Regions from separate parts of the Homo sapiens genome. Here region 2 is reported to be linked to region 1. Evidence: microRNA targets listed by miRTarBase, many of them from high-throughput screens and not tested one by one. Region 1 holds a microRNA gene; the other region holds the end of a gene's coding sequence.

Evidence for each region. The annotated mature microRNA hsa-miR-6785-5p reads UGGGAGGGCGUGGAUGAUGGUG and lies in region 1 at 894-915, opposite strand. An mRNA with a match to its seed (bases 2 to 7 or 8) in the 3' UTR can be bound and repressed. Matches are read on the target gene's strand: a 7mer-m8 pairs with bases 2 to 8, a 7mer-A1 pairs with bases 2 to 7 and ends in A, and an 8mer does both.
Region 2: miRTarBase lists SPAST as a target of hsa-miR-6785-5p. Seed matches in the 3' UTR shown: 7mer-A1 at 1,851-1,857 and 7mer-A1 at 2,016-2,022.

Annotation. Positions count from the first base shown.
Region 1 is chr17:75,496,284-75,499,467 of GRCh38, reverse strand. It overlaps MIR6785 (microRNA 6785), which reads right to left and starts at 920; the gene lies at 840-920. It overlaps TMEM94 (transmembrane protein 94), which reads right to left. Exons shown (of 32, transcript NM_014738.6): 24 at 2,997-3,184; 25 at 2,661-2,738; 26 at 2,270-2,355; 27 at 1,606-1,687; 28 at 1,145-1,293; 29 at 930-1,024; 30 at 746-839; 31 at 386-556; 32 at 1-206. The coding sequence ends at 134.
Region 2 is chr2:32,154,276-32,157,275 of GRCh38, forward strand. It overlaps SPAST (spastin), which reads left to right. Exons shown (of 17, transcript NM_014946.4): 17 at 99-3,000. The coding sequence ends at 221. Among named protein-coding and RNA genes, the nearest start is that of SLC30A6-DT, 10 kb to the right of the region's middle.

The sequences.
Region 1 (3,184 bases):
GGGAGCTGGGTTTCCAGTGCCACGGGTGCAGGAGCAAACCTGGAAACATTCATGATACAAACTCCCCTGTTCAGAAATGGGTCTGGCTTTAGCCCCAGGGACGGGGGCAACTACAGCCACCACAGCCAGTGGCTCAGAAGGGAGAGTTCATGCCCAGCTTAGTTTCAAACTGCAGCTTCTGTCGCTTCTGGTAGCGGACTCGGACCCTGGTGGGGCAGGAGATTAAAGTACAGGTTGGCAAAGATCCTTAGACCAGGGGCCGGGGCAGGACACCAGAGGAGGAGGGAGGGATGGGCAGCGGAAAGGTGGGGGAGTGTCGCCAAGGGAGTAACAGGTTTAGGGAACATGCCTGAGCCCAGAGGGAGGCGCCCTGCTGACAGCTCACCGAATCTCATGTAGCTTCACGATCTCATTGGTCACCACCACAAGGACCAGGGACAGGCAGCCCAGGAGCCATGTCAGCAGGGGCACGTCCTCCAGGCCAAAGTGGACGTGGCTGTCCCTGTGTGTCCACAGCTGCAGGTCCACAGCCGTCTGGACCACCTGACCCAGCAGCCTGCAGGAGGTGGCGGCCCCGTGTGAACCCGACACTGCTTGCTTCCTTCCCTGCTCTTCCCAGTACAACAGTTAGCTCAGGCAGGGTACAGTTAAACCACTGGCCCCGGTCCCGCCCTCCGATCCTAGCCCTGCAGAAGGCCCTCTCCTCCCCAGCCCACACTCCGCCCTCCATCCTAGCAATACTCACACCACAGGCACTGTCACGGCCCACCAGAGGTTGGTCAAGGGGCTCTTTCTCCACAGGGGCTTGGTGCGATGCACATGGGTGATGGAAATGAAGACTGGGGAAGGTGGGGCGATGTGGGGGTCAGACTTCCACAGTGGGGCTCCTCTCCCACCATCATCCACGCCCTCCCAGGGAGCCCTCTCACCAGTGTGCAGGACAATCAGGGCGGCCGTGAGCTTCTGAGCCGACAGCAGTCCATTGGCAAAGTCCTCAAACCAGGCTGGAGCCCTGTCGTCGTTGCTGCCAAAGTGAGGCATGGGCTCAGCCCCTCTAGGGCCGCAGGGAGGTAGGCTGGGGTGGGGAGGGAGGAAGCCTCGAGGCGAGGCAGGCGATGGGTGGATCTCTGGGGCTGGGACCCACCTGGGCAGCATGACGGAGGAGCAGTTGGTGAGGTTGCGGTCCCGGGAGCTGTCACAGAAGCTCTGCAGTGTGAAGCCAAAGCAGATGAGGCAGGAGCTGATGGTGAGGCTGAACTTGAGCAGGAAGCAGAGCAGGAAGTAGTGCTGGGTCTGCGGGAACAAGGCCAGTCACTCCTGGGGCGCACAGCCCCTCTGCCGGCTGCTCCTAGCTCTTCCACGTATTCAACGGGCTCTTAGTAAATGGTCAGGCCTGGGGGGATAGGGAGCTCAAGCCCCAGCAAGGGTCTTTCCCAGCTCTGTGCCACTACCTCCTCTTTGATCTGGGGGAAGACTAGGAACCAAGTGCCGGAGTTCTGCTGGAATCCCCCATCCAGAGCCTTCCAGATTAGCCCCTCTCTCCTCCCCCAATCCTCAGTCCCTTCCATGCTCACTTGCAAGGCTCACAGGGTCTGTTTTGCTTACCTTCTTGGGAATGGACTGGAGGTTTTTCCCCGTTGCCATAGACATGATGGAGCTATGGGGGGGCTTCCCCAGCAGAGAGATGCTGAAAAGCAGAGATCAGGTAGAGGGATGGTGACAATGACCCTCTGTCCCTCAATTCTCATAGAGGGAACCTCTAGGGAGTCTTGCGCGTGAGGTCGAGTCTGGTGAGGGGATGGAATAAAACAAAGGCTGGACGGCAGTGGCTCACACCTGTAATCCCAGCACTTTGGGAGGCTGAGATGGGCAGATCATTTGAGGTCAGGAGTTCAAAACCAGCCTCGCCAACATGGCAAAAACCCATCTCTACTAAAAATACAAAAATTAGCCAGGCATGATAGTGGGTGCCTGTAATCCCAGCTACTCAGGGGGCTGAGGCAGGAGAATCACTTGAGCCCGGGAGGCGGAGGTTGCAATGAGCAGAGATTGCACCATTGCACTCCAGCCTGGGTGACAGAGCGAGACTCCATCTCAAAAAAAAAAAAAAAAAAAAAAAAAAAGACAAAGGGGGTTCCCTCCATGCCTCCTGTACCAGAGGAGGTGAGACCTGAGCAGTTCCAGAACCTTGGGCTCCTGGGGCTGCACAGTGACATCCAGACACCTCCTGCTTAGGCATGGGGTGTGGGGAAGATACATGGCATCTCACCTGAGCAGAGGGTAGCAAAAGCAGGACAGCCACAGGATGTCGGTGGTACTCAGGAGTGGCGGCAGCTGGACCAGGCAAGAAAGGAACTAGACCAGGAAAGAAGCCAAGAGCCACAGTTCAATTCAGGCAAATAATAAGGGCATAGGAGCCCCCGAGCTCCCTTGCCCTGGGCCCAGATAGATGCTCACATCCTGCCAGAGGGAACAGGGGCCGGAGGGAATACTCTTCTGCCAATGAGGGTCAGCTCAAAAAGCCCAGGGGCTTCACAGAGGCTCTGGGGGGACCCCTTGACTGTACTGCTAACCCCAGCCTCCTTCCTCAGATTTTCAGCTGGCCCCTGAGTGAAGGGGTGAGTGGCACGGGGGCAATGCCTGTGCGGGCCCCACCTCACCTGGATGACCACAAGAGTCAGCTGGCACTGCAGCAGGAAGAGGAAGCACTTACGGATGCCATAGGTGGCATGCCGAGCCTAGGGACCAAGAGGGACAGATTATGGCCTGGGTCTACCTGGCCTCTCCCAGGCCCAACAGCTGACACACTTTAGCCAAGAGCCAGACGCCCAGGATGCTTCTACGAGGGGAGCAGAGGCGAATGTAACTGCCTGGGAGAGCCCGCTCGGAGGGCTGGGGAATGAGGTCCCCGGGTTCAAACAGGTCCTTTGCTGCTACTCCCACCCCAGGCGGGTCCTGTCCTGCGTCTCTCCTCCTTTGCCTGCCGAAGCACCCACCTGTTCGATAAGCCGGATGATGCTGATGGTCTCCTCCTGGCGAAAGGTCAGGGAACAGGGCAGGCTGTTGAGCTGCCCTGACAGCTGCAGGGGAGAAAGGCCATCCGAGGCCTGGGCCATGCTGATGCTGGTGGCGTAGCCAAAGGTCTCCCAGGAGCAACGGGATGGGTACAGGGGATCCAGGGCAA
Region 2 (3,000 bases), not on the chromosome of region 1:
ATTAAGAAACAGCAGCATCATTACTTTAATCCATCATTTCGTTAACCACCATATACCTGTTGATCATTTGTATTGTCATGTGCTTTTTAAAAATCTAGATGAGAAATATTCGATTATCTGACTTCACTGAATCCTTGAAAAAAATAAAACGCAGCGTCAGCCCTCAAACTTTAGAAGCGTACATACGTTGGAACAAGGACTTTGGAGATACCACTGTTTAAGGAAATACCTTTGTAAACCTGCAGAACATTTTACTTAAAAGAGGAAACACAAGATCTTCAATGAACGTCATCGGCTACAGAAACAGCCTAAGTTTACAGGACTTTTTAGAGTCTTACATATTTGTGCACCAAACTTGAAGATGAACCAGAAAACAGACTTAAACAAAATATACAATGCAAATGTAATTTTTTGTTGTTTAAGGCCTTGCCTTGATGGTCACAGTTATCCCAATGGACACTAAGTTAGAGCACAACAAAACCTGATTCTGGTCTTCTTTACCAATATAATCATAATGTAAATAATAATTTGTATATTGTGTTGCAGATGAAAGTATTCCAGGAACAGTGAATGGTAGAAGACACAAGAACATTTGTTTGTTTGTCTTCTGATGTTTTTTCTTAAAATAGTAATTTCTCCTACTTTTCTTTTCTACTGTTGTCTTAACTACAGGTGATTGGAATGCCAAACACTCTTAAGTTTATTTTCTTTTTTCGTTTTATAAATTCAGTGTGCCAAATGAAACTTTTTTCCTAAGTAACTGTAATAGGAAAAAGTTTATTTTGAGAGTTTCTTCTTCATAAATCTACAGACATTAAACAATTGTTGTGTTCTTTTTACCTTTTATTTTTCTATTACCTTGCTACCAAACAGTTTAGATAGCAATATAATAGCAAAAAAGCAAATATGGTAAAATAGAGAAGGTTTGAAGGTTTGAGTTACTCTGTCATATAACATGTAGATCAGTCTTCATGTGACCTGCAGTATTTTTTTTTCTAATGTATTTGTCAGAAATCTGTTGTAGACTGTTAACTTCTTCCTGATGGAATTTATTTTCTGCAAGAATTATTCTGATATTTAAGAGAGCCAATTTTAACTGCTGTGAAAATGTTTCCAGTGCAAGAGAAGGGAAATACTAGGAACTAAGACATTTCTAATTTATTGCTTATTACTTTCTTAATTTTACAGGATAATTATAAGCAAGTGGAACTACCATCTTTTATTCTTAATAATTATTAATCCCTTCAATGAAACTTTAAAAAAACTGAATTTTTATACATGGCATACATTTTTCTAGTTCCTTCTGCTTGCTTTATTAACTCAAAAGTTCTAGTTCTAGTCTGTTGATCTGCCTTTTGTTCTCCCAAAATGTACAGTAATTCCATTTGTTTGTATAAATATGCCTGGATTTTCATTATAAAAATGTCATTGTAGGGAGTAGAGACTCATATCATGGCCTTTTAAATATTGTAATAAAGGCAAATAGATATTTGCCCTTAGTTTACTGGTTAAAAGTTTGTTTACAGAACTTTTCTCTGGTGCTTAAATGATGCTATGTAAAATGTCATGAGTGGAAAGAATATTTGTAGTAGTAACAAGAATTTTTCATTTAGGAAAGATTTCTTAGGTTTTGAAAGAATACATTAAAATAAAAAACTTGCCCCTACTAGGTAAGAACTTTATAATGAAGACATACATTCTTCTTAATTTTACTCTTGCTCTTGTTAAAGATTTGTTTGAATATAGAAGATGCATGATTTCTGGGTTTTTTTTTTTTTTTGAGACAGAGTTTCGCTCTTGTTGCCCAGGCTGGAGTGCAATGGCGCAATCTCGACTCACCACAACCTCCGCCTCCCAGGTTCAAGCAATTCTCCTGCCTCAGCCTCCCGAGTAGCTGGGATTACAGGCATGCGCCACTACCCCAGCTAATTTTGTATTTTTAGTAGAGATGGGGTTTCTCCATGTTGGTCAGGCTGGTCTTGAACTCCTGACCTCAGGTGATCCGCCTGCCTCGGCCTCCCAAAGTGCTGGGATTACAGGCATAAGCCACTGCGCCCAGCCAGAAGATGCATGATTTCTTAGGATCATATGCTGTTTGTAGCCATAAGGTAAATCATGTCTCTTCCAATCATGACTTTGGAACTCCCTGAATAATAAAAATGAGAGTTGAGATAAATAGGGGAAAAAAAATTTTTTTCAAGCCAGAGCTATGCATATGTTAGGTGATGGGTAGTATCCCTTTAAGGTCTCAAACATTACAACATCAATTATGAAATACTGATAACGAAAGGTAGTAATGAAATATATATGATGAAAAGAATTGAGAAGTTCTAAATTAAGACATTTCAGTTAAGCTCATAAAATTTCATTGTTTTCATTTAAAAGATTAACGTTATTGATACTTGGATAACTGGCTAATCATATTAAAGGACTATGTGGTTCCAGCTCAACTTTTAATATATTGTCTCCTTTAAAACTATCATGGTTATAATTCTATTGGGAAAGACTTTTAGATAACAAAGATTTCAAATGTTAAAAGAGATAAAAGTCAGGTTAATACTATCTTAAACACTGAGTCAGAAAATCATTACTGTATAGAAGTTGCTTTCCTGATCAAGTCTGAACTTCAGCTAGTGCTAGAGAACTATTTTCTATGACTTAACTCTAACCAAGTTTTATTTTAAGCTGTTTCTTTGATAGAAGGGCCATGAAAATAGAGTAATGATATAGTAGGAGATAAGGGATTGGTTTGGTCTTTTTCAATAAAGATAGAAGTTGCTGAAGTTTTCTGAATTAATAATGACTTAGATTGTGACCTTTTAGATTCGGTGTTGAGCTCTGTGTTGTATTACTTCCTAAAAGATAATGCTTAAACATTAAGCATTAGTGTGCTCTTCATGTTAATATGGCAGAGTTTTGTAAACTAAATTAAAACTTACTGATATATTGGACTTTGAGCCAAGGGAAAGAATGAGTACTATCTTTCCAGATATCTTAAGG